7 linked regions of the Homo sapiens genome follow. The protein of the gene in region 4 purifies or fractionates together with the protein of the main gene of each other region. This does not show direct contact. Each region holds a gene or a part of one and is shown on either strand. Other genes may lie near its edges. The genes, in order: SLK, NAT16, TLR2, RIPK2, IGF2BP2, CIB2 and CAMK4.

Region 1 (3,500 bases), on a different chromosome or scaffold from region 4:
AAGGCACATGGAAAGGGCTCAGTAAATGGTAGAAATTACTGTTATTACATTTAGAGCTCATAGATGCAAACTTTGGGATGAGATAGGGAAAGGAACCAAGAAGATAATAAACCATTTTGTTGGTTTCTAATGGCATGGGCAGACTGTGTGGAGATACTAAAGCCCTGTGTTATTCTTTCATGACACTTTCTGCAAAATGTGATCTATCTTCCTGTACTGAGACATTAATTGAAAAATTTCTGAAGAACAAGAGTCTTATTTCATGTAGTTATTTGAGCACTATAAAATTGTGTCAAGGAGAATTTCTGTGATCTTGATGACTGTATTTTAGTATGATATTTGAAGAGCACGGGCTGGCACTATTTTTTCTTTTTTCATTTCACTACTCTCTGCTTCTAAGGAGTAGGGTATGAGTTTTTTAAAAAATAAAATTTGAAATTAAAACTTATCTGTCTTCTTATGGCCTCTTTTTTCTAAAAGTTTTTGTTTTTCAAGATTCCATAGAAATTGAGGATTTATAAACTTCCTTATATTTGGAAGAAAAAGCTATGGAACCTTAACATAGTACGTAGTAGTATGTAGTAGAAAACTGTTTATAAACTTGATTCTAACTATCATTTGCTTACAGAAATTAGTAACTGTTACAAAGATTATATTGTAAATAGAGATGAGGTTGAGTATCCCATTTCCCAAATGCTTGGGACCAGAAGTGTTTTGGATTTTGGAATTTTTTGGATTTTGGAATATTTGCATTATACTTAGTTATTGAACATCTGAAATTGAAAATGCTCTAGTGATCATTTCCTTTGAACATCATGTCATGTTAGCACTCAGAAAGTTTCAGATTTTGGAGCATTTCAGATTAGATTTTCAGATTTGGGATGTGTAACCTATAGGTAATCATGTTGTGTATTTAGTCTGAGTCATTCTTCCATCGTGTACTTGTTGTATTCCTTCCACTCAGTCCAGCACTGTACACATTTAACAGTTACTTCCTTGCCTGAAAAAGCTTCACTACTTTAAATTTATTTTCTCTTTTAAAAATAGTATTATTTGACATATAAATGAAGATATGTAATATCCTTCACAATATTTTATCTTTGGGTTTCTCTTTTTTTGTTGTTGTTGTTTTGTTTGTGTTTTGTTTTGTTTTGAGATGGAGTCCCTCTCTGTCGCCCAGGCTGCAGTGCTGTGGCGCAATCTCGGCTCACTGCAACCTCCGCCTCCCAGGTTCAAGCAATTCTCCTGCCTCAGCCTCCGGAGTAGTTGGGATTACAGGCACGCACCACCGTGCCGGGCTAATTTTTTGTATTTTTAGTAGAGACGGGGTTTCACCATGTTTGCCAGGGTGGTCTTTCCTGACCTCAGGTGATCCGCCTGCCTTGGCCTCCCAAAGTGTTGGGATTAGAGGCATGAGCCACTGCCCCTCACCCCCTGCTGGATTTCTCTTGTTTTTAACAGAAAAAAAAGAATGACATAAGATTATGAATTGAATTGCATTTCTAGAAAGCTATTTTATCTATTAAACCAGTTGAAACTAAACTCTTGGCTGTGTGCTGGATGAAAGTAGTTTTTATATGACAACTGATGGCTGTGTGCCTTTTAAAAAATAGTAAAATATATAATCTTTGTATTAAAAAGTATGGAAACATATACATTTAGCAGATAATAAAGTGAATTATTATTAACAACTGTCAGTGTCAAGGAATTCTGCTAACATCCGAGAATCCCTCTTGCCTCCTTTCTGTATCTAATATCTTCTCTCTCCCTAAAGGAAACCACTATCCTATCTTTAAGTTATTCATTTATTTGCTTTTCTTAATCATTTACTATCTAGGATTATATCCCTAAATGTTATAAATTTAGTTTTGTATGCACTTGAACTTTATATGAATGGAATCATATTGAACATATTCTTTTGTGTCTTGCCTCTTTCAAAGTCAGTATTGTGTTTGTGAGGTTCATCTTTATCACATAGAGCTGTAGTTCTTTTTCGTTGTAGCATTGTATTCTATTATATGATGATATCACCAATTATTTACTATTGTACAATTAATGGATATATTGGTTGCTTCCAGTTTTTGGCTCTTACACAAAACGGTAGTTGCACATATACATGAGTTTCACTAAGAGTTAATCCAGGAATGGAATTGCTAGGTTATAGGGTAGTGTATCTTTAATTTTACCAGATGATGCCAAACTAATTATACAAGTTTACATTCCCACCAGCAGTTGAAGAATTTCCTTGCCCTGCCAGGCGCGGTGGCTCATGCCTGTATTCCCAGCACTTTGGGAGGCCGAGGCGGGCGGATCACGAAGTCAGGAGATCGAGACCATCCTGGCTAACACGGTGAAACCCCGTCTCTACTAAAAATACAAAAAATTAGCCGGGCGTGGTGGCAGGAGCCTGTAGTCCCAGCTACTCGGGAGGCTGAGGCAGGAGAATGGCGTGAACCCGGGAGGAGGAGCTTGCAGTGAGCCGGGATCGCACCACTGCACTCCAGCCTGGGCGAAAGAGCAAGACTCCGTCTCAAAAAAAAAAAAAAATTTCCTTGCTCTGCATCTTTGCTAACATTTAATATTGTCAGAATTTTAAAGTTTTGACAGGCTGATAATGTGTTACATTTCTCATTGTGCATTTAATTCACCTTTCACAGATTACTAAAAGTAATTCTTTTAATATGTTTTTGGTAATTTGAATTTCTTCTTTTGTGTTCAAGTCTCTTATCCATTTTTCTCTTGAAGTCTTTGTTTGTATGTTGATTGTGTGTGTGTACAATATATGTGTTTTGAATTTTAACCATTTGCTGGTGATAGTTATTGCTAATATAGTCTCATTCTGAGACCTGTCTTTTCATTCTCACTGTAGTGTCTTTTTATGAATTCTTTAACATGGTCCAATTTGTTAGTTTTTTCCTTTACAGTTGATGCTTTTTGTGTTATGTTTAAGACATTTCTTCCTAATGTGTGATCATGAAGATAATCTTCTATATTATCTTCTAAAAGCTTTATGATTTTGCTTTTCTTTAACAATTAGATCTATAATCTACCTAGAATAGATGTTTGTAAATGGTATGAGGTAGGGGTCCAGTTTCATTTTTTTCCCCATATGGATACACAATTGTCCCAGAACTATTTGCTGGGAAGAAAAATAATTCCCCACTGCTCTGCAGTGCCCTGTTATGTAGCATGTGTCTGTTTCTGCATTCTCCGTTCTCTTCATTGATCTATTTGTCTATTCCTATACCAGTATCCCACTGTCTTAATTAGGAAAGAATTAAAATAAATTTCTGCTGCTTCTTCAACATAGTTTAGTAGTATTGTTGGCCCTTAGGGCTTCTATGTACATTTTCCAGTTAGCCTGGTTGAGTGCCACAAAAAATCTGTGTTTTTTTGGAGAGATTTCATTGAATTTATAAATCAGTTTTGGAAAAATTAACCTCTCTTTGATATTGAGTCTTCCCACCTGTGCATGTTTTATCTCTGTTTAGGTCTTTTTT
Region 2 (3,500 bases), on a different chromosome or scaffold from region 4:
GCTCACTGCAGCCTCAAACTCCTGGGCTCAAGCGATCCCCTACACCCCCAAGACTTCCTAGTAGCTGGGACAACAGGCACGCACCCCTACTCTCGGCTTTTTATTTATTTTTATTTTTTGGAGACAGGGGTCTCGCATGTTGCCCAGGCTGGTCTGGAACTCCTAGCCTCAAGTGATCCTCCTGCCTCGGCCTCCCAAAGAGCTGGGGTTACAGGAGTTAGCCGACGCGCCCGGCCCCTTCCACCTCTTGAGATGCTCCAGCTCCGAGTGTGTCAAGTTCCGGACCGCTCACCACGCCCCTTCCTTGGCTCCTCCCCCGGGAGTTTGCCACGCCCCACTTCCTCTTAGCTCCTCCCCCAGCCCAAATCTAAGCTCTTCCTGCTCCCACCCCTAGCCTACCCTCTCTCTCCTGCTCCCCACCTCCTTTGCTTTTACCCCCAGAAATTCCTCCGGTGGATCCTCGAACTTTCAAACGCTCACCTGTCCCTCTGGTTCCTCTGCTTTAGGAGTCCTCCACCCCACCCTCACTGACATAGCCCCTGGATCCGCACTGCACGCCCTGCACTTTGGTCCCAAAGCAGGCTCTATTTCCGCAGCCTCCAGAGGAAGGCTGGGGAGAAGCTCTCATCCTCCTCTTCCTAAGATCCACGCACCCGCAGGTGGCTTCACCCCATGTCACCTGGGCCGTGCCCCCGGGCTCACCACGCCTCCGTTGCGCTTGGCCAGCACCACCGTGCGGTCGGGGTCCCGGAGCCAGCTGTGGTAGCGGCTAGGAAGGTAGTCCAGGCCGCCGTAGATGCCCCCCGAGATGGCCAGCACTTCCTCAAACTCCCGTTCCGTGGCCACCACGAAGTCCAATGGCTCGGCCTCAGCCTCAGGCCCCGATCCCGACCTGGGCTCGGCCTCCACCTCCTGTGGCCGGGTTTCAGAGCTTGGCTCTGCATCTCGGGCAGTCTTCTTTTCCGGCTTAGGGACCTCTGAGGTGGCTGTGCCACAGCTGGCTTCCAGCTTCATGACCCTGCAGAAAAAAAGAGAATTCAGCACCTGGATCAGCCCCTTTGTTTCCACATCTGGGCCCCTGCACACAAACGGTCCTAATGCCCCTTCCTACACAAATAGCCTTTCTTTTTCTTTTCTTTTATTTATTTACTTATTTACTTATTTATTTATTTATTTTTTGAGACGGAGTCTCGTTCTGCCGCCCAGGCTGGAGTGCAGTGGCGCGATCTCGGCTCGCTGCAACCTCTGCCTCCCCGCTTCAAACTATTCTCCTGCCTTCACCTCCTGAGTTGCTGGGACTACAGGTACGTGCCACCATGCCTGGCTAATTTTTGTATTTTTAGTAGAGACGGAGCTTCACCATGTTGTCCAGGCTGATCTTGAATTCCTGACTTCAGGCGATCCTCCTACCTCAGCTTCCCAAAGTGCTGGGATTACAGGTGTGAGCCACCACATTGGCCCCTTTCTTCATTTCTTCTTCTTATTTTTTTTTTAATACAGATAGGGATCTCACTACTTTGCCCAGGCTGGTCTCGAACTCCTGGGTTCGAGATCCTCCTACCTTGGACTCCCAAAGTGCTGGGATTACAGGTGTGAGCCACTCTACCTGGCCCACACCCTTTCTTTTCTGCTGTCCACACAGACCCTGGGAGTGGAGGTCTCCCAGCTCCCTCCCTCTTCCCACCAGCTTTCAGAAATCTCAGCTCTACCCACCCCACTCTTATGGGATGCTCCCTAACAGTCAGAAACTTAGAACCCTGTGAGATCCCCATAGACCAGCCCCAGATCCAGGGACCCAGGCAAAAGAAAAAAGGCACTTGGGGGTAGTTTTAAAAAAAAAAAAGAAGAAGAAGGCTGGACACGGAAACTCATGCCTGTACTCCCAGCACTTTGGGAGGCCAAGGCAGGTGGACTGGTTGAGTCATGGAGTTTAAGAACAGCCTGGGCAATATAGTGAGACTCTGTCTATAAAAAAAATTAGCCAGGCATGGTGGTGCAGTGGGCCTGTAGTCCCAGCTGCTCTGAGGCTGAAGTGGGAGGATCGTTTGAGCCAAGGAGACAAAGGTTGCAGTGAGCCGGGATCACACCACCGCACTCCAGCCTGTGTGACAGAGAGAGAACCTGTGTCAAAAAAAAAAAAAAAGAGGCACACTCCTTCAAGGATCCCATCACCTCTCTAAGACCTCTGCAAGGACAACATGAGAAAGAAACTCCCACTGTCACCCCTCTGTCCACAAGAAAGTTCCCAGAGAACAGTGGAGGGCTCACCCTCACCCCATTTCCTGCCACTACCAGCTACAATCCCAGCCAGGGCCAAGGGGGAGGGTGTAGACCCCAAATATCCTCCATATTGCTGCCCCAGTTCCCTGTCCCCCCACCTCCACCTCTTGACATACACATTCAAATATAAACAAGATAGATAGCTCCACTAGAAAATGTCAAGCCAGCCTAGCATGGCGGCTCAGCCGAGGCGGGTAGATCACCTGAGGTCAGGAGTTCGAGACCAGCCTGGCCAGCGTGATGAAACCCCATCTCTACCAAAAATACAAAAATTAGCCAAGCATGGTGGTGGACACCTGTAATCCCAGCTACTAGGGAGGCTGAGGCACAAAAGTCACTTGAACCCGGGAGGTAGAGGTTGTAGTGAGCCTGAGCCGAGGTTGAGCCACTGCACTCCAGCCTGGGCAACAGAGTGAGACTCTGTCTCAAGAAAAAAAAAAAAAAAGAAGAAGAAAATGTCAAACCATTCTTTCTAAGCCAATCAATGCCCCCCGCCCCCGCCCCTTTCCTTCCTTCTGCCCCTCTTCCCCATAGGGAGACTTGGGCTCTGTCCACTCCAGGACTAGGAATTGTTTGAAAAGTGTTCTGTCGGAGCTCCACCAAAATGAAAGAGAAAGCCCCCTATCCAAGTCCCAGCAACTTCTATTTCTGGGCCTGTCTCTTCCAGATCAGCCAAATCAACCAATCAAATCCCCCCTCTCTCTTTCAGCCAATGATAATGCTCACCTCAGATAACCTACGTTAAGCCTCATTAACCAACATCCCAAGGGCACACAGACCAGCTATTCTGTGGGGGTGATATTGACTTATTGACTTAACTGGAATTTTTATTTTTTTTTTTAACAAAAGTCTTACCTAGGTTTGGGGAAGGTTGACCAGCAGTGGGACCAAGGAGTGGTTTGCACTTCCAAGCCATAAACAGAGCTTGCCTAAACGCGGTATGCTTGCTATACAAACCAAGCTTCAAGACAAGAGTTCTATCTCCCTCTTTGTTTTCTGATTCTTTCTCATCTGATTCCAACACCTGGAGATTACCTGGATATGGAGCCAGAATTATCAGAGAGGAGGAAGCCAGGCTCAGAGGATTTAGATCCTCTGCTGGGGCCATTAGAGACCATCAGGTTCAACCCATTCATTTCATAATCAAGGAGATTAAGAGCCTTGCCCGAGGTGACTCAGTCTGGGCAGAGCCAGGCTAAAAGTTAAGTTTCCTTGGCTTC
Region 3 (3,500 bases), on a different chromosome or scaffold from region 4:
TAAAATAAATCCAGAGAAATCAGAACAGGGGAAATAATAATATAAGAATAGAAATTAATGTGCTAGAAAATAGGGGATCTATCAAGTCAGAAGTTGATTTTTTGAAAATGCTAATAAAAATGATGAACCTCTGGCAAGACAATAAAAGCTGGTACAAATAACTCATCTAAGGAATAAAATTGAGGACCTCTCTTTTGTTAAATGACATAAGCAGGAGGCCATTATCCTGAGACTGTCTCTACACTTTGAGTTCTTACATAATAAACTGCAACCTAATTTAGTATACTACATAAACAAACTGAAACCTAACTTAGGAGCTTTTTTTTTGTAATTAATAGCTAAATTTCCACCAAATCATAAATAGCCAAGCTTTAGCCAATCACAGGCAGCCAACTGATCAGACTATGCCCAAACAAGGTAAATGCCTATTACACCATACCCAAATAAGGCAGACTCCTAGCTGAAGCCAATCAGGTGATTACTATGCTCTTGTGTTTGGCCTATAAAAGCTCACTGCTCACACTGTTGGATGCTCTCTGAAACTTTTGTGAATCTGAGTGCTGCCTGATTCATGAATCATTCTTTGCTAAAATAAACTCTGTCAAATTTAATTTGTCTGAAGTTTCTCTTTTAACAGTGTTTGGTGTTGCAAGCAGGATCCAAAGGAGACCTATAGTGACTCCCAGGAGCTCTTAGTGACCAAGTGAAGGTACCTGTGGGGCTCATTGTGCCCATTGCTCTTTCACTGCTTTCAACTGGTAGTTGTGGGTAAGTTCCTGCTCAGACTTGAGCACTATACATTTGCATTTTCAGCTCTCTGACTTTATTTGAGCAATTCTTTGATGGATTGGCTCCAGAATTGGATTGGATTCAGTGAAGAAACTGAAACTGGACTGGTGCTCTAGGAGGCCTCAAGTAGATAAGGTTACTAGAAGACAGGGAATCCTGGGCTTATCTGGATTTAAGGAGTCTACAACTCCATCTGCAACTCCAGCCGATTTCATTTATAAGAATTATGGACCAAGAACCTGTGCTTTTCTAGAGAAATGTGTGAGCCTTACTAAAGGTAACTTAGAATTACAATGGACTGCTGAGACCAGCTCGGTCGTGGAGACCCTAACCCAGCAGCGCTAGAGGAATCAAAGACACACACACAGAAATGTAGAGTGTGGAGTGGGAAATCAGGGGACTCACAGCCTTCAGAGCTGAGAGCCCCTAACAGAGATTTACCCACATATTTACTGACAGCAAGCCAGTGATAAGCATTATCGCTATAGATTATAGATTAACTAAAAGTATTCCTTACAGGAAACAAAGGGATGGGCCGAAACAAAGGGATAGGCTCTGGCTAGATGTCTGCAGCAGGAACACGTCCTTAAGGCACAGATTGCTCATGCTATTGTTGTGGCTTAGGAACACGTTAAGCGGTTTTCTGCCCTGGGTGGGCCAGGTGTTCCTTGCCCTCATTCCAGTAAACCCACAACCTTCAGCGTGGGCGTCATGGCTGTCACAAACATGTCACAGTGCTGCAGAGATTTTGTTTATGGCCAAATCTGGGGCTAGTTTATGGCCAGGTTTGGGAGCCTGTTCCCACATGTCCCCCTTTTTTGTTTTGCAAAGCAATAAAAGCAAAGGCAGCTTTGTCACAGTGAGCTACTTCTTGCAGGAGTCGGGATTCGCATATGCATACTATACAAAGACAAACAACACAGATTAAAAGCACAACCATCATTGAAATCACAGAGCTTCCAAGTGTCTTTATCTATTTTAATGGGTTAATCACTGCTAATCTGTCTGCAGCTCCTTCAAGCACTCCAGTTCCTGGCATTAAGGTCTGGTGTGCCTGGAATGCTTTAAATATTTGTTCTTTTAATATTGCAATATGGAAAGACAAGTTTGTAGAGTGTCTTCTAGGTGCTTTTTTATTCTTTCCTGAATTTGGTCTTATTTAAGAGCCATTAATAGTTTCCACAAATCCTTATGTTTAGCTCCTACAGCGGGCCATATCATTTGAGGGTGAGGTGCCACTATACCATCATGTTTCCAGATAATAGGAACTCTTGCCATATTTCTTGCTATTTCTACCATCTGACCATTTTGTTTAGACCAGCTAAACATAGTGTGGCCATGGCACGCAGACTGAGAGGTGCAATTTAAGCTAAACATCCCCTTAGGGGACCAATCAATAATGATTCCATAGGAATCACTGCGCAGCACCTCTGCCTATTCTGCAATGCAATCTTCCCAAACAAGTATGTTCATTATTTCTGGCCAGGTCCAATTCTGTTTACAAATAGGTTTTTGAGGGCAATATGCCTCAATTATAGAAACAGATTTATTATGGTAAATACTGAGATCAGAAAGCATGTGTAACTGTGTCATAGAATGATTACATCCAGGCATTATTGCCAGCCAAGATTGATAAATATGCCCAATAAGTATAATTGTTCTCTGTGTTAGCCCTTGTTGAAGGAATACTAATGGCAATGGTGATCACTGCTATCATAGCTATCATTAAATTACTCATTGTGACTGGTTGTCCCACTTTCCTCAGGTTTTCTTCCACCCTCTATGGCAGTTTCTTGATCTGTCCCCAGGTAGATGGCTGTGTTTGATGGTTGTTGCTCGTGATAGTTTGGGTCCTCCTCAGCATCAGTCTCGACATGGCTGCAACCAGAGGGTCCTCGGGATCCTCCCAGAATCTCTTCCTTGGCATCTGGCTCATGATAAGGTTTCAGGTGTCTTGATGGTATCCAAATCAGCTATTGATTCTGGCCTGGAGAAACACAAGCATAACCTCTACCCCAAGTTATTATTTTACCTATTTCCCAACTTTTTGTTGTCAGATCTCTGCACCAAGCCAGTTGTTCTGCTTCTGTTTTTGCAGCTGGTTTCTGTAGATGCTCTTCAGCTGCTGATAGCATCTGGCCTTTAGGCAGGCTCAAAAAATTTAAAGTCATTAATGCTAGATTCAGTTGTATATGGGGTGTCCTGTAATCCCTGTTTCCCCTTTTTGCTTTTGCAACTGCTGTTTCAGGGAGAGATTCATTCTTTCTACAATGGTTTGTCCTTGAGAATTATATGGGATGCCAGTAATGTGTTTAATATTCCATATAGAGAAAAATGTAGCTAGAGCTTGGCTAGTATAGCCTGGGGCATTATCTGTTTTAACAGAAGTTGGAATTCCTATCACCACAAAACACTGCAAAAGGTGATGCTTAACACATGCAGTCTCCTGATTGGCATGTAGCCCAGACAAAGTGAGAAAAGGTGTCCACACATACATGTACATAAGCTAGTCTCCCAAACGAGGGAACGTGTGACATCCATTTGCTAAAGATAATTAGGTTCCAATCCTCGAGGATTAACTCCTCCTGTTAAAGATGAGGAATGCACCATTTGGCAAGTTGGGCATCACTGGATAATAGCTTTAGCTTCTTTCCAGGTACTGTTATATCTGCATTTGAGACCAGAGGCATTAACATGGGTTAAATTGTGAA
Region 4 (3,500 bases):
CCTCCCTCTCTCTCTCTCTCTGTCTCTCTCTCTTTCTTAGATGGAGTTTTGCTTTTGCCACCCAGGCTGGAGTGCAATGGTTGCGATCTCAGCTCACTGCAACCTCCACCTCTCAGGTTCAAGCGATTCTCCTGCCTCAGCCTCTTAAGTAGCTGGGATTACAGTTGCATGCTACCACAACTGGCTAATTTCTGTATTTTTAGTAGAGATGGAATTTCACCATGTTGGCCAGGCTGGTCTTGAACTCGTGACCTCAGGTGATCCACCTGTCTCAGCCTCCCAAAGTTCTAGGATTACAGGTGTGAGCCACTACACTCAGCCATGAACCTTAGTGTTATATTTTCAAAAGCCCTCTGGCCATCAACCCTTTGTGTGCTCCTAGTACCTCAAATTAAAAACAAAAACAAAAACATTAAAAGTATAATTATCCGTCTTAACTCTAAAACTTGTTTTAACTTTTTTTTTTTTTAATTGAGATAGAATCTTGCTCTGTCACTCAGGATGGAGTGCAGTGGCGCAATCTCAGCTCACTGCAACCCCTGCCTCCCAGGTTCAAGTGATTCTTGTGCCTCAGCCTCCTGAGGAGCTGGGATTACAGGTGTGCACCACCATACCCGCTAATTTTTTTGTATTTTTAGTAGAGATGGGGTTTTGGCATGTTGGCCAGGCTGGTCTTGAACTCCTGGCCTCAAGTGATTTGCCCACCTTGGCCTTGCAAAATGCTGGGATTACAGGTGTGAGCCACCGCATGCAGCCTGTTTTAACTTCTATTTCTTTTAATGGCACCAATGTTCTCCCAGTCCCCAGGCTTAACAATTTATTTGGCTTTACCTCTTTTTTCTCTCATCGCTCCTCTAAGTGAAAAGTTACAAAGTCCTATCATCTAGTTGTCTATAACATCTCACATACCACCCCTCCTTTCTTTCATTCTGTATCGGTTCTTAATAATCTCTCACGGGTACTACAGTAATAGTCTCCTAACTGATCTCCCCATCTCAAGTTTCCTTTTCCTTTCAAAATATCCTACACATTCCAGCCAGAATGAATCTCCCCAAAGTAAAAAATTTTATGTCACTCCCTTGCTCAAAAAATTGCAATAGTTGCTTCCTACTCAAGTAAAAAAGTCCAAATAGTTCAGCTGAAAGTTAGAATTCTTGATGATATGACTCCAATCTACTTAGCTCTTACTTCTTTCATTCACCTTCTTTACTAGCTAAACCAAATTACTCACTGTTCTCTGTATTTTCTTGCTTCTGTACCTGTATGTTGTTCCTTTTGCCTGGAATGCCTATCCTTTGTAATTACAGATCCAGCCTTCAGCCAGAAATAATTTCATGATGACAACATGGTAGAGTAGAGTGACATGATAATATTTATCAAAAGTCTTAGATGTGCCAGCTACTAGCTATGTGATCCAGAGTCCTTAAATGTGTAAAATGAGGACATTTCTCTCACAAGGTTGTTGTGAAAGTCCTTTGTACAGTGTTACTCTTCCACTGTACTACCATAGCTCTAGATCCACGTCTCTCTTATATCACTATCTCATATAATAGTTATTTAGAAACATTTCTCCTTTTTCTTGTAAGAGATTTTTTTGCGGACATTTTCTGGCAGTGTCTAACATAATGCCTGTTTTTTAAAATTTATTTTTTGACACAGAGTCTCACTCTGTCGCCCAGGATGGAGTGTGGTGGTGCAATCTCGGCTCACTGCAACCTCCCTCCCAGGTTCAAGCGATCTTTCCGCCTCAGCCTCCGAAGTAGCTGAGACTACAGGTGCCCACCACCATGCCTGGCTAATTTTTGTATTTTTAGTAGAGATGGGGTTTCACCATGTTGGCCAGGCTGGTCTCGAACTCCTGACCTCAGGTGATCTGCCCACCTTGGCCACCCAACATGCTGGGATTATAGGTGTGAACCACTGCGCCTGGCCAAACATAATGCCTTAAAACTTAAATGTATTTGTTGAATATCACACTACTATTTTCCTATCTTTAGACTCTGTCGCTTTACAAAATGAGTTATATATGCAAATTAAAGTTCCATAGAAATCATGACTGCTTGCAAAAATTTGATCTTGAAAGAAAATGGAAAACTTGCAAGTAAATAATGATTGGAAAATCTACATACTAGATAAAAAATCATTGTCTTGAGGAGCTGGCAGGGACCTTGAAGTTTCAGGAGAACCACTATTTTCATGGAGCTGAGAGGATCCACATGATTCCTAAAGTAAATAAAAAATAAAGGGTTTAGGTTAATAAAAATTATCGAGCTTTAATTTCTAAATAGTTCTTGTTTGTGGCTTATCACAAATGAAGATAAAAACTACTAATTTTTTTTTTTCAGACAGGGTCTCACTCTGTTGCCCAGTCTGGAGTGCAGTGGCACAACCTAGGCTCACTGCAGCCCCACCCTCCTGAACTCAGGTGAACCTCCCATCTCAGCCTCCTTAATAGCTGGGATTATAGGTGCACACCACCATACCATGCTAAATTTTGTATCTTTCGTAGAAATGGGGTTTCGCTACGTTGCCCAGGCTGGTCTCAAACTCCTGCGATCAAGTGATCCACCAGCCTTGGCCACACAAAGTGCTGGAATTACAGGTGTGAGCCATTGTGCCCAACCTACAAAACTACTAAAAATTATACTTTACAAAATTAAAGAAACACATACATCTATAAAATAACCAACAAAGATAAACTTATTTTCTTAATTAACACAAATGGGCGAAATAGGGGAATAATGAAACATTAGAAATAATTATTTTTTCAGTATTTTCTACACGATCTCAGATGCTGCAGCCAGTAGCTAGAATAGTGAATGAGAAATTTGGTATCTGCAAGTCTGGTCTCCTACAGATTTAGAAATGCCTGTTCTCAGCACCTCAGGTTCCTTCCACATGGAGGCACAGGAAAACATGGAAAAAGTAATGGAGAATTTTACTCCTAGCTCTGTCATGGAATCACTAGCTAACTTTCAATAAGGTATTTAACCTCTCTGGCTCTCAGGTTTTTGGCTCTATTATCCGCACTGTCTATCTAAAAATATGCATGAATGGCCTCAAAGATCAAATGAAATACTGTACATCAAGTGATTAAAAATGTGATATACTATGCTTTAAGGTTCGTTTTAAAGATACTACAGGTTTAATATCCCTTATCTGAAATGCTTGGAACCAGAAGTGTTTGGAATTTTGGATTTTTTTCAGATTTTGGAATATTTGTATATATATAACGAGATATCTTGGGGTTGGGACCCAAGTCTAAATATAAAATTCATTTATGTTTCATATACACCTTATACACACAGCCTGAAGGTAACTTAATTCAATATTTTAAAATAATTTTATACCTGAAACAAAGTTTTTTTTTTTGAGGTGGAGTCGCCCAGGGTGGACTGCAGTGGTGCGATCTTGGCTTGTTCAAGCAATTCTCCTGCCTCAACCCCCCGAGTAGCTGGGATTACAGGCATGCGCCACCATGCCCAGCTAATTTTTATATG
Region 5 (2,207 bases), on a different chromosome or scaffold from region 4:
GTCAGCAGCCATCAACATTGAGGCAAAACTCTTCACTAGCCAAGAGTACAACTTGCCTAAGGCTCGGATGATCGTTAGCATTCTTTAGCAATAAATTATTTTTAATTAAGATATGTACACTGTTGGGCCGGGCACAGTGGCTCACGCCTGTAATCCCAGCCCTTTGGGAGGCTGAGGCAAGCAGATCACGGGGTCAGGAGATTGAGACCGTCCTGGCTAACACAGTGAAGCCCCGTCTCTAGTAAAAATACAAAAAATGGCCATGTGGGGTGGCACATGCCTGTAGTCCCAACTACTCGGGAGACTGAGGCAGGAGAATTGCTTGAATACACGAGGCAGAGGTTGCAGTGAGCTGAGATCGTGCCACTGCACTCCAGCCTGGGCGACAGAGCGAGACTCTGTGTCAAAAAAAAAAAAACAAAAAAAACCCACTGTTTTAGACATAATGCTATTGTACACTTAATACAGTGTAAACATAACTCACATGCAGTGAGACACTAAAACGTGTATGACTCATTTTATTGCAAAGTTCGCTTTACTGTGGTGGTCTGGAACTGAACCTGCGACGTTCCTGAGGTATGCCTGCACTTACTAGTGAGCTTCCCGTGGAGGCGTGAAGTGCCTCTTCCCGGAACTGCCGGGCATATTATCCTCCCCCTTTCCTCCACTTAAAAAGCAGCTTTGCCTGGCCAGGCTTGCAGTTCCTTAAGGATAGACTGGTCTTCTCTAGCTTGACATGCAGTCGATCCATCCCTCTAGCTCCGAGGTTCGGAAACTTCAGTGCGCACAGCAATCACCCAGAGGCCTTGCTGAAAAGGTTGCTGGGCCTCACCCCCAGGATTTCTGATTCAAGGTGGACCCCAAGAATCTACATTTCTAACAAGTTCCCAGATGATAGCTGATGCTGCTGGTCTGGGGACTACACTTTGACCACCGATCTAGTTTAGCTTCTCCCAAAGACTTTCCTGGGCAAAACCAGCTTTCTCAGAGTAGCTGTGTGGATCCAGGTCACACCTACCGCCTGTCTGCCCAGGTCCCTCAGAGCTAGGACTCAGCTGACACCTGGGATGAGGCAATGCCTAGTAAAATAAAACACCAAGACACCAGGATCTTGTTAGCTGGATATATTTCTGTTTTTTCTTTTTTTTTCTTTTTTTTTTTTTTTTTTTTGTCACAGAACACTGTTTGCAGTAGAGGAAACTGGCATTGCAGTCTGGTGGTATAATGGCTTGTCCACATAAACCAGTACATGTTCATCCTTTAGCGCAAAAAGCCCTAATGGCGCGTACCCTATTAAAATTCAGGACATCTCCAATATTCTCTCTCTCTGTTTTTCTTTGTCATCTTTTTTTTTTTTAAATAAACATTTTCAAGGTTTGTCCAAAAGAAGGCCATATAGGTTCTTGGCTAGCGGAAGACAATTCAGAACAGCTGTTGCACACTTGGACTGTCACCTTCTCCAGGCTGGCAGTTGATATCTTATTTTTTTTCCAACTCATTTTTATTAAAAAAATAAAAAAATGCTCCAACTATCAGCTTTACAAAATCTCTAAGGGAAACACAAGAGCAAGGTGCTGAGGTAAAAACACCTGAGGTAGCTTCTTCTGTGTGTTTTTCTCGTTAAAAAAATCTGTGAATTTAACGCCCTGGGCCAACAACCTTGGTAAATTTCTACTTTCCTCCACATTTTTTTTTTTTAAAGAAAGGAATCATTTTGCTGAATATTGATGGCTTATACACCAAAATGCAAAAAGACAAAATACATTCTTTCATTGTGGAATTTTTTCTTTGTTTGGTTGATTGGTTGGTTTGGTGGGTTCCTGTTTTCCTCTTCCAAAACGCTAGGACAAGTACCATTGACTCTTGTTCTTTTGAGTAACCAAGTGTAAGTTGAGGCTGGTTTGTGTGTTTCGCTTTTGTTCCTTTTGTGTGATGTGATACTCAGAGCACTGCTTTGCCTGGGGGGGGGGGGGTGCGTAGATACGGGATTGAGATGGAGGGATGAGGAAATTCAAAAGAATGGAGATGGAGAAGAAGGGGAGGGGAGGGAGGGGAGAGATAAACAGAGAGAGACAGAGAATTATATAGCAGTATGCAAAAAACCAGTTTAAAACCTGTGAAGCAAAGAGAAATGGGTGTATGAGCTAGACAGGCATGAGGAGTGACAGAGTTTCCTCTTCAAGGAGACGGTATCCCTTCTGTTGACA
Region 6 (3,500 bases), on a different chromosome or scaffold from region 4:
GGCTGGCTGGCTGAATTCCTGTGGCCATTTAACCTGAGTAAACTGAGGCTCAGAAGTGAGATGATCATTGTTGCAAATGAGGCCCCAGGCCTCCCCAGCGCCAGACTAGGAGGGCCCTGGCTGCCTCTCCCCACTCCACCCCCAGCCTAGAGCAGCAAGGAAGCCACAGTTCTTCCATGTATTCCTGTGCCCACCCGGTCCATGCGATCTGCACGCCCCTGTCTTGGGCAGACAGCAGCCCGTCCCAGGAGCAATGCTATGGGGTCCAAGACCGGGCGGATGTTGGGTGGAATCTGAGAAGCTTTTTACATGAGCCATGTGGGCATAGTTTGTGGAGGGCAGACTGGCAGGTATTTTCTTTCTAATATGCAAGCAAAACGTGGGTGCACAGACAGAAACCAAAGTCCTCTGAAATAAACATGATAACTAGAAAGTGAAACGTCAGTCTGGGCGTGGTGGCTCACACCTGTAATCACAGCACTTTGGGAGGCCAAGGCAGGCAGATCACCTGAGGTCGGGAGTTCGAGACCAGCCTGACCAACATGGTGAAACCCCATCTCTACTAAAATTACAAAAATTAGCCAGGTGTAGTGGCGGGCACCTGTAATCTCAGCTACTCAGGAGGCTGAGGCAGGAGAATCGTTTGAACTTGGGAGGCTGAGGCAAGAGAATCGCTTGAACCCGGGAGGCAGAGGTTGCAGTGAGCCGAGATCACACGATTGCACTCCAGCCTGGGCGACAGTGGGACTCTGTCTCAAAAAAAAAAAAAAAAAAGAAAAGAAAAGAAAAAAGAAAGCAAAATGTCAGCCCCTGATAGGCCCTGCTGCCTTTGGGATCCAGTGTCTGATCAAACGTGCTGAGGACAGGAGCTTTGACCTTGACTCTTCAGGTCCAAGTTGGGTCCCAGCCCCTTCCTAGGCCTTAGGCATCTCAACTGAGGTCTATCTGAGGATTTGACACCAGTCCCCATGGGTCTGTCAGGCCAGCAGAGGGGGTGAGCTCGTGGGTATGAAGTTTTCTCCCTGTGGCTGTGGGAGAAGCATGAGTCCTTGGCTCATGAGTGCCCGCCGCCCTCTGGTGGCTGGTGAGACAGCCAGCCTGAGGGCAGAGCTGGGCGGGGTGAATCCAGGTGGCCCTACCTCAGGCAGTATTCGGGGGGGCTCCAGAGGCCCCCCTGCAGGCCTGGCCTTACCACCATGGCCTAGGCAGCCTCTCTGGCTCCTCCATTTTACACCTCAAAGCTGCTGAGTGATCCTTCTAGAAAACAGAGCTGCCCTTCCTCACTGGAAACCTTGCAGTGGCCCTGGTGTCTGGATCACTAGGTCCAAACTCTGTGGCTGGCTCCCACAGCCTGGCCCCAGATTCTCTCCAGACTCATACCGCCCCCTGTCCCACCACCTTCCAAGTTCCTCCCATCTCCTTATCAAGCTCTGCGCTTCCCTGTGTCTGCATGGGCTGCGCCCTCTGTCAGGTCTGCCAGCCCCCTCTTCTCCAGTCCAAGCCTCTGCTAGTCCCTGCTTAAAGGTCATGCCTGGGACCCCTCTCACACTAACCACCCGACCTGGGATGGGTGAGTCCCTCCCTCCTTCGTTCTCAGGACCCTCACAGATGTCTCTCAGGGACTGATCGTCTCCCTTGGCCACCCCACTGGACAGGCACTCTTCAGAGGACAGATCAGCTTCACTGTTCTTGGTGTCCCTAGGGCAGGAGCCAGTAGTAACCAGACAGCCTAAGGGCCCCACATGTTCCCCCACCGCATATTCAGGCCCCCTCCTCTAGCCCTGGTTACCATAGATCTTGAAGGCATAGTTTGCCTTGAGCTCTCGGGGAGCCGACTCGCAGAGCACGGAAAACATGTCCACAAAGTCGTTGAAAGTGAGGTTCCCCTCACCATCCTCGGAAAACGCCGCCACGATCCTTTCTTTGAAGGGATTCTCCTGAAGAAAACACACACAGCAATCACTGTGGGTGCAGGATAAGCAGGAGGGCCCCGGAGCCAGACTGTGGACAGCCTGTGTGACCCTGGAGGAGTGACCAAATCCCTCTGAGCCTCGGTTTCCCCATCTGTAAAAAGGGAATAATAATAACACCTTCTTAATTGGGTTGTGATGGGATTAAATGAGCTAAAGTATGTAAGGTGTTGGTACCAGGCCCGGCACATGTAAGAGCTCAGGAAGCATTCTACTGGGTCATGTCACATCATTAAGATGGGCACAGCCAGGGACAGTGGTGCACGCCTGTAGTCCCGCTATTTGGGAGACTGAGGTGGAGGAATCACTTGAGCCCAGGAGTTTGAGGCTTCAGTGAGCCATGATCGTCCCACTGCACTCCAGCCTGGGCGACAGAGCAAGACCATGTCTCCAAAAAAAAAAAAAAAAAAAAATGCTGAGCACAGCCAGTGTGTTATCACTGGAGGCACTGCCTCATCTGAAGCAGAAGCAGAAGCACAGATTCGTCCTGTTACCCAGAAGAGCACACAGAGGCTCTGCCTGGATGTGTAGGGCTCTGTCCCCAGCAGAAGAAGATGACAGCCCAGGGCACTGGTGGCCCTCAGCTCAGGCCGTGTCAGGCCAGGATCGTGGGAGGTGGATGTGGGGTCAGATAACTGGACCAGTCAAGCAGCAAGAGCCATACAGCCAGTTCAGGCCCAGGTCTGCTGTCACTCTGCTCCTGTGAATTCTCCCCTAGACCACCTTGGATGCTGCCTCTCCCAGGGAGCTGTACACGGATGCCTTCCTAGATCCCCAAATCACTCATCCTGCAGCCCTTCCATCCCAACTGAGCTAGCGCTTGGCTAGCGCCATTCCGTGCCCAGCCCAGGCCAGTGCGGGAGGCTCAGAGACAGACCACTTGGGTCCTACCCATGAGTGTCTCACCTGCTCCAGCAACCCTCTGAGCTTGCTCTTGAGCCCCTTGCTGGGCCAGACGGGGTGCTGGTCCAGGGCTGAGCCTGGGGCCCATTGTCTCTCAGGACTGAGGTCACAACCAGAGTGCAGGCCCCAAGTGGATGCCATATAGCACTCTGACTCCACCTTCAAGCCACACATCCCAGGCCTGGCAAGGGGCTACTGACGAAGTCCCACTGCAATGGGGAGTTGTGCCCCAAATGCCTTCTTAATGCTGAATGCACTTTACATATTATGGATAAGGAACTCATGAAACGAAACATTCAGATATATATGGTCTGAGGATCAGCAGCATCAGTCTCACCTGGGAACTTGCTCGAAAAGCAGAATCCTGACTCTACTCCACATGTACTGAGCCTGAATTGGCATTTGGACAAGATCCCTGGGGAGTTTAAAATTAAATTTTAACAGGTACGTTAAAGTCTGAGAAATGATGCTATGGATGACCACCATGCTGACCTCAGTGAGAAGCCACAGCCAGACAACGGGGAGACAGAAAAGTTATCTAACAAAGCAGACACAGGTCTGCCAACTACAGCAGGCTTGGGGCCACTTAACAAAGGGACAAGCAAATGAGCACAAGCCCATGGCCTG
Region 7 (3,500 bases), on a different chromosome or scaffold from region 4:
GTGTACAAAATTGGCTGCTTTACCTGTGACCCACGGATGCTGGAGAGCTTGAAATGTAGTCAGCCGTTTCTTTGGATCCAAAACAATTAATTTTCTGACCTGAAATAATAAAGAACCATAAACTTAGCGAGGTTTTTAGGATGACCTGGGCTTGCCCTCAGCTTACAAACTTCCAGATCTTATTCCATTTCCCAGCAGTACCACTAAATATATGTGAGAAAAAAATTGTTTAAGTCCTCAGGGGCCACTGTAGGTAGGCACAGCTTCAGGTAGCAGTAGCTGAGGGAGTATGAGAAGACAGGGCCATGTACCACCTGAGACCCCCAAAGTGGCAGACGGCTTTCCAACAGAAGTCAAGAAACAGCTCCTCACTTGCCTGTGGACTGGAAGTTCTTTGAAGGCAGAACCAGCAAAATAATTCTGGGCTGCGCTTCACAATCACCTAGAATTCAGAACTTAAAGTACATCTCTATGGTAACAGAATGGAATCATTCATGCATCATCATTCTTTCTGTGGGGATTAAATGGCAAACAAAAGGGAGAGTATCCCAGAACTTATGGAATACTACCTTATGTTTCTATCTTGGGGTTTATAGTTCTTTCTAACCCCTTGAGGGTACTTGAAGGACTAAGCCCAGAGTTTAAAAATCATTTTATAATCCAAGAAGTCAGTGGCTTGAGGGCATGATTTGCCTAAAGAATGGAATCCAATCAATGGCAGCCCATTCTTGGAGGTTTACCCCTGCTTGTGAGGATGGGCAGTCAATAAATTCCCAGGAAGGTCAGCAAATAAAATAATCCACAGTCCTGGGCTTAGTAGGGGTGACCTGATATGAGGCAGAGACTATTGGGAGTCAGGAAGTGTGTTCAAGCCCTGGTTATGCCACTCGCCACTTTTGTGACCCTAGATATAGACAAATATATAAATTGCCTGTGGACACCCCCTCAGGCTCTTTCCTTACAGAATCTTATTTCCACTTTAATTCCTTTGTAATTGCTTCTTAGATGCATATATAACTTTTTAAAAACTCATGTAATCTTTTAGCAGCCTTATCATTTGGAACTACTAGTGCCAATTCATAAATGAGGGAAGCAGGGTAGCTCAGAAAGATTTAGTGACTTGCCTCAGGTCAGACAATTTGGAATTGATGGAGCCTGTATTTAGACTCAGGTCTGTGTATGTCAGAGCGCATCTTGTGGCCACTACAGCATGATGTCTCCAAGGTGGTCAATCTCCCTGTACCTTGGCCTGCTCATGTGCAAAATAAGGAGCTTTGAATGATTGTAGGTCTCAGGTCTTTTCTAACTCTAATTACCTAAGGAGACGTGAACATAGGCTAAGGAAATCAGGCGGCAAGTCAAATGAGGAATAAATACTATCTGGTTCTCTCTTCACTTCCTTTCTGCAAAAGAATGTGTGTTTGGGCTAGATTTGTAGTGGGCAGAGACATGAGGCTCTTTAGGCTTAAAATCTGAGAGGACATGGAGGAAGGTAGGATGGTTAAGAGAAAGAAGGCATGGTAGTAAATAAAAATCTGATAGTAGTCATGGCTATTATCCGTTGAACAGGACTACTAATAATTTTATGTAAATGAGCCCTAATCCTTACAACATTTTTGACAATTAGGTATTTTCTTTTTCTTTTCCAATCATTTTTCTCCTCTCCCTCCTCATTACTATCTTCCTCACAAAAATACAAAGAATTTATTGAAAGTCAATGTGCACCAAAAATTTATATACACCATTGTTAATCTTTACATTTGAAGATATTGATAACAATCCTAACTGAATTATTAGGAAACTTTCTGAAGGTTATAATCACACTCAAAGCCTTGCCATTACCCTGCAGTACCCCTTACATCCAATTCCCCAACTCCTTAGCACTTAGTCTCTGCCGATGACACAACAGATGTGGGTTTTGCTAGTAAGTATACATTTATGGAGCTCAAGGATTCTTCCAGTTCTGAAGTTTTAAGCAGTGATAAACTAACAAGGGATCTAGCTGAATGAAGGAACATCAAAGCTAACCCTCTTATTCACTTAATATTTATTAAGGGTGAAAAGAAATGGAAGGAGGGCTAAATAAGATTACTATTATTAAGTTAGTTGATATTAGTTACTTAACATATATTATGTTCCTTAATTCTCACAACGACCTAGAGATAGGTACAATTATCATCCTAGATGAGAAAACTAAAGCATAGCAAGGTTAGATCATGAGCCTGAGGTTACACTTCCAGGACATGACAAAGGGGGCACTTAAATCCAGGTGTGTCAGACTCTGAAACTTCACGGTGTACTTCCAGATCCATTGTTTCATCCAATAAACATTTACTGAGTCAGTCCTATATGCCTATGTGGTTCTAAGGTCTGGGTACACACGCTTTGTCCTGCCCCAGAGCTTAAAATCTAATTAAGGAGGACCATTAAATATATAAGTGATGACTGTTATGAACTGGGGAGTGCAGGGGGTAAAGGAAGATTTTGGCAGAAGGAACCAACTATAGGTGGGAGGGACTGAAGGGGAAGGCCGACCATGCCTCCCAAGGGATATCTAGTGGCAGCTGGGGCTTGAGAATAAGAGTTACCCAGGGGTGTGTGTGTGTGTGTGTGTGTGTGTGTGTGTGTGTGTGTTTACATGCCTATGTGTAATGGAGAAGAAGGTGGGGAGGAAGAAAGAACATTACAGAGCAGAAGAGCCATGGCAATATCCTGAGCTATGCTGATGAGAAACTAGAAGTGTGGTGCACTAGAGTGAAAAGTGATCAAAGGGGAGAGATGTGAAGTGAGTGATGGCACAGGAGAGAGTGGCAGGCCCCAGACCAGGCAGCGTCATGTAGATCTTGTTATGGGTTTTGGATTTTATCCTAAGATTCTTAAAGCAGGACAAGGACATGATGCGATTTATTTATAAGACCATCCCTCTGGATCCTGTACAGACTGTATTTGAGAAAGGCATGAGAAGAGGCAGGGAGGTCAGATAGGAGGTTGGGGCAGTGGTCCGGGGGAGAGAACTGGATGGATTCAAGAGGTGTTTAGGAGCATGGGGTATGACTTGAGGAAGGAGTTGCAATGACATATTTATACATCACACATCACACACACTGACTTTCTCTTCCCACTCATGCTGGAAAAGCCATGAGCCTTAGGGAATCTGTTCCATGAAGGAACACAGAGGGTAAGGAAGAAATGCTTGAAGAAAAAAGAGCACAGGAAAGGGAGTCTGGACGACTGGATCAGCCCTAATAATGTCTTTCTGCTGGGAAGCTGTGTGACCTTAGCAGTCATTTCACCTCTCTGGTCTTTAGCATTCTCATCTTTAAAATGAGAGGAGGACTAGATGCCTCCTAAGACCTCTTCTATATCTAACCTTCTATGATTCAAAAGTCAGCTTTTGATTATGTCTGTGTGGTTGTTCTCTAGTGGATTGATGAGAAATGTTTCAATCTCATGTTAGCATCCTCTTTATTTTATAAGAGGTGAGTGACCTCCCCAGAAGG

Evidence for each region.
Region 1: the proteins of RIPK2 (region 4) and SLK purify together in Homo sapiens (affinity purification with mass spectrometry; one large-scale study listed by BioGRID and IntAct). This does not show direct contact.
Region 2: the proteins of RIPK2 (region 4) and NAT16 purify together in Homo sapiens (affinity purification with western blotting, with the first as the bait; one study listed by BioGRID). This does not show direct contact.
Region 3: the proteins of RIPK2 (region 4) and TLR2 purify together in Homo sapiens (affinity purification with western blotting; one study listed by BioGRID). This does not show direct contact.
Region 5: the proteins of RIPK2 (region 4) and IGF2BP2 purify together in Homo sapiens (affinity purification with mass spectrometry; one large-scale study listed by BioGRID and IntAct). This does not show direct contact.
Region 6: the proteins of RIPK2 (region 4) and CIB2 purify together in Homo sapiens (co-immunoprecipitation; one large-scale study listed by IntAct). This does not show direct contact.
Region 7: the proteins of RIPK2 (region 4) and CAMK4 purify together in Homo sapiens (affinity purification with mass spectrometry; one large-scale study listed by BioGRID and IntAct). This does not show direct contact.

The regions. Positions count from the first base shown.
Region 1 is NC_000010.11:103,970,140-103,973,639, forward strand, and holds part of SLK (STE20-like serine/threonine-protein kinase), read left to right. Parts: intron 1-3,500. UniProt on the Homo sapiens protein: Mediates apoptosis and actin stress fiber dissolution.
Region 2 is NC_000007.14:101,173,794-101,177,293, forward strand, and holds part of NAT16 (probable N-acetyltransferase 16), read right to left. Parts: intron 1,019-3,500; 5' UTR 1,015-1,018; coding exon 703-1,014; intron 1-702. UniProt on the Homo sapiens protein: Probable N-acetyltransferase. Shows only trace activity toward L-His and no N-acetyltransferase activity toward other amino acids. The physiological substrate of this enzyme is unknown.
Region 3 is NC_000004.12:153,687,280-153,690,779, forward strand, and holds part of TLR2 (toll-like receptor 2 precursor), read left to right. Parts: exon of another isoform or gene 1-622; 5' UTR 623-768; intron 769-774; exon of another isoform or gene 775-1,066; intron 1,067-3,500. UniProt on the Homo sapiens protein: Cooperates with LY96 to mediate the innate immune response to bacterial lipoproteins and other microbial cell wall components. Cooperates with TLR1 or TLR6 to mediate the innate immune response to bacterial lipoproteins or lipopeptides.
Region 4 is NC_000008.11:89,785,316-89,788,815, reverse strand, and holds part of RIPK2 (receptor-interacting serine/threonine-protein kinase 2), read right to left. Parts: intron 2,224-3,500; coding exon 2,130-2,223; intron 1-2,129.
Region 5 is NC_000003.12:185,642,630-185,644,836, forward strand, and holds the end of IGF2BP2 (insulin-like growth factor 2 mRNA-binding protein 2), read right to left. Parts: 3' UTR 501-2,207; downstream 1-500.
Region 6 is NC_000015.10:78,107,446-78,110,945, forward strand, and holds part of CIB2 (calcium and integrin-binding family member 2), read right to left. Parts: intron 2,065-3,500; coding exon of another isoform or gene 1,938-2,064; coding exon 1,790-1,937; intron 1-1,789. UniProt on the Homo sapiens protein: Calcium- and integrin-binding protein that plays a role in intracellular calcium homeostasis. Acts as an auxiliary subunit of the sensory mechanoelectrical transduction (MET) channel in hair cells.
Region 7 is NC_000005.10:111,479,384-111,482,883, reverse strand, and holds part of CAMK4 (calcium/calmodulin-dependent protein kinase type IV), read right to left. Parts: intron 100-3,500; coding exon 1-99. UniProt on the Homo sapiens protein: Calcium/calmodulin-dependent protein kinase that operates in the calcium-triggered CaMKK-CaMK4 signaling cascade and regulates, mainly by phosphorylation, the activity of several transcription activators, such as CREB1, MEF2D, JUN and RORA, which play pivotal roles in immune response, inflammation, and memory consolidation.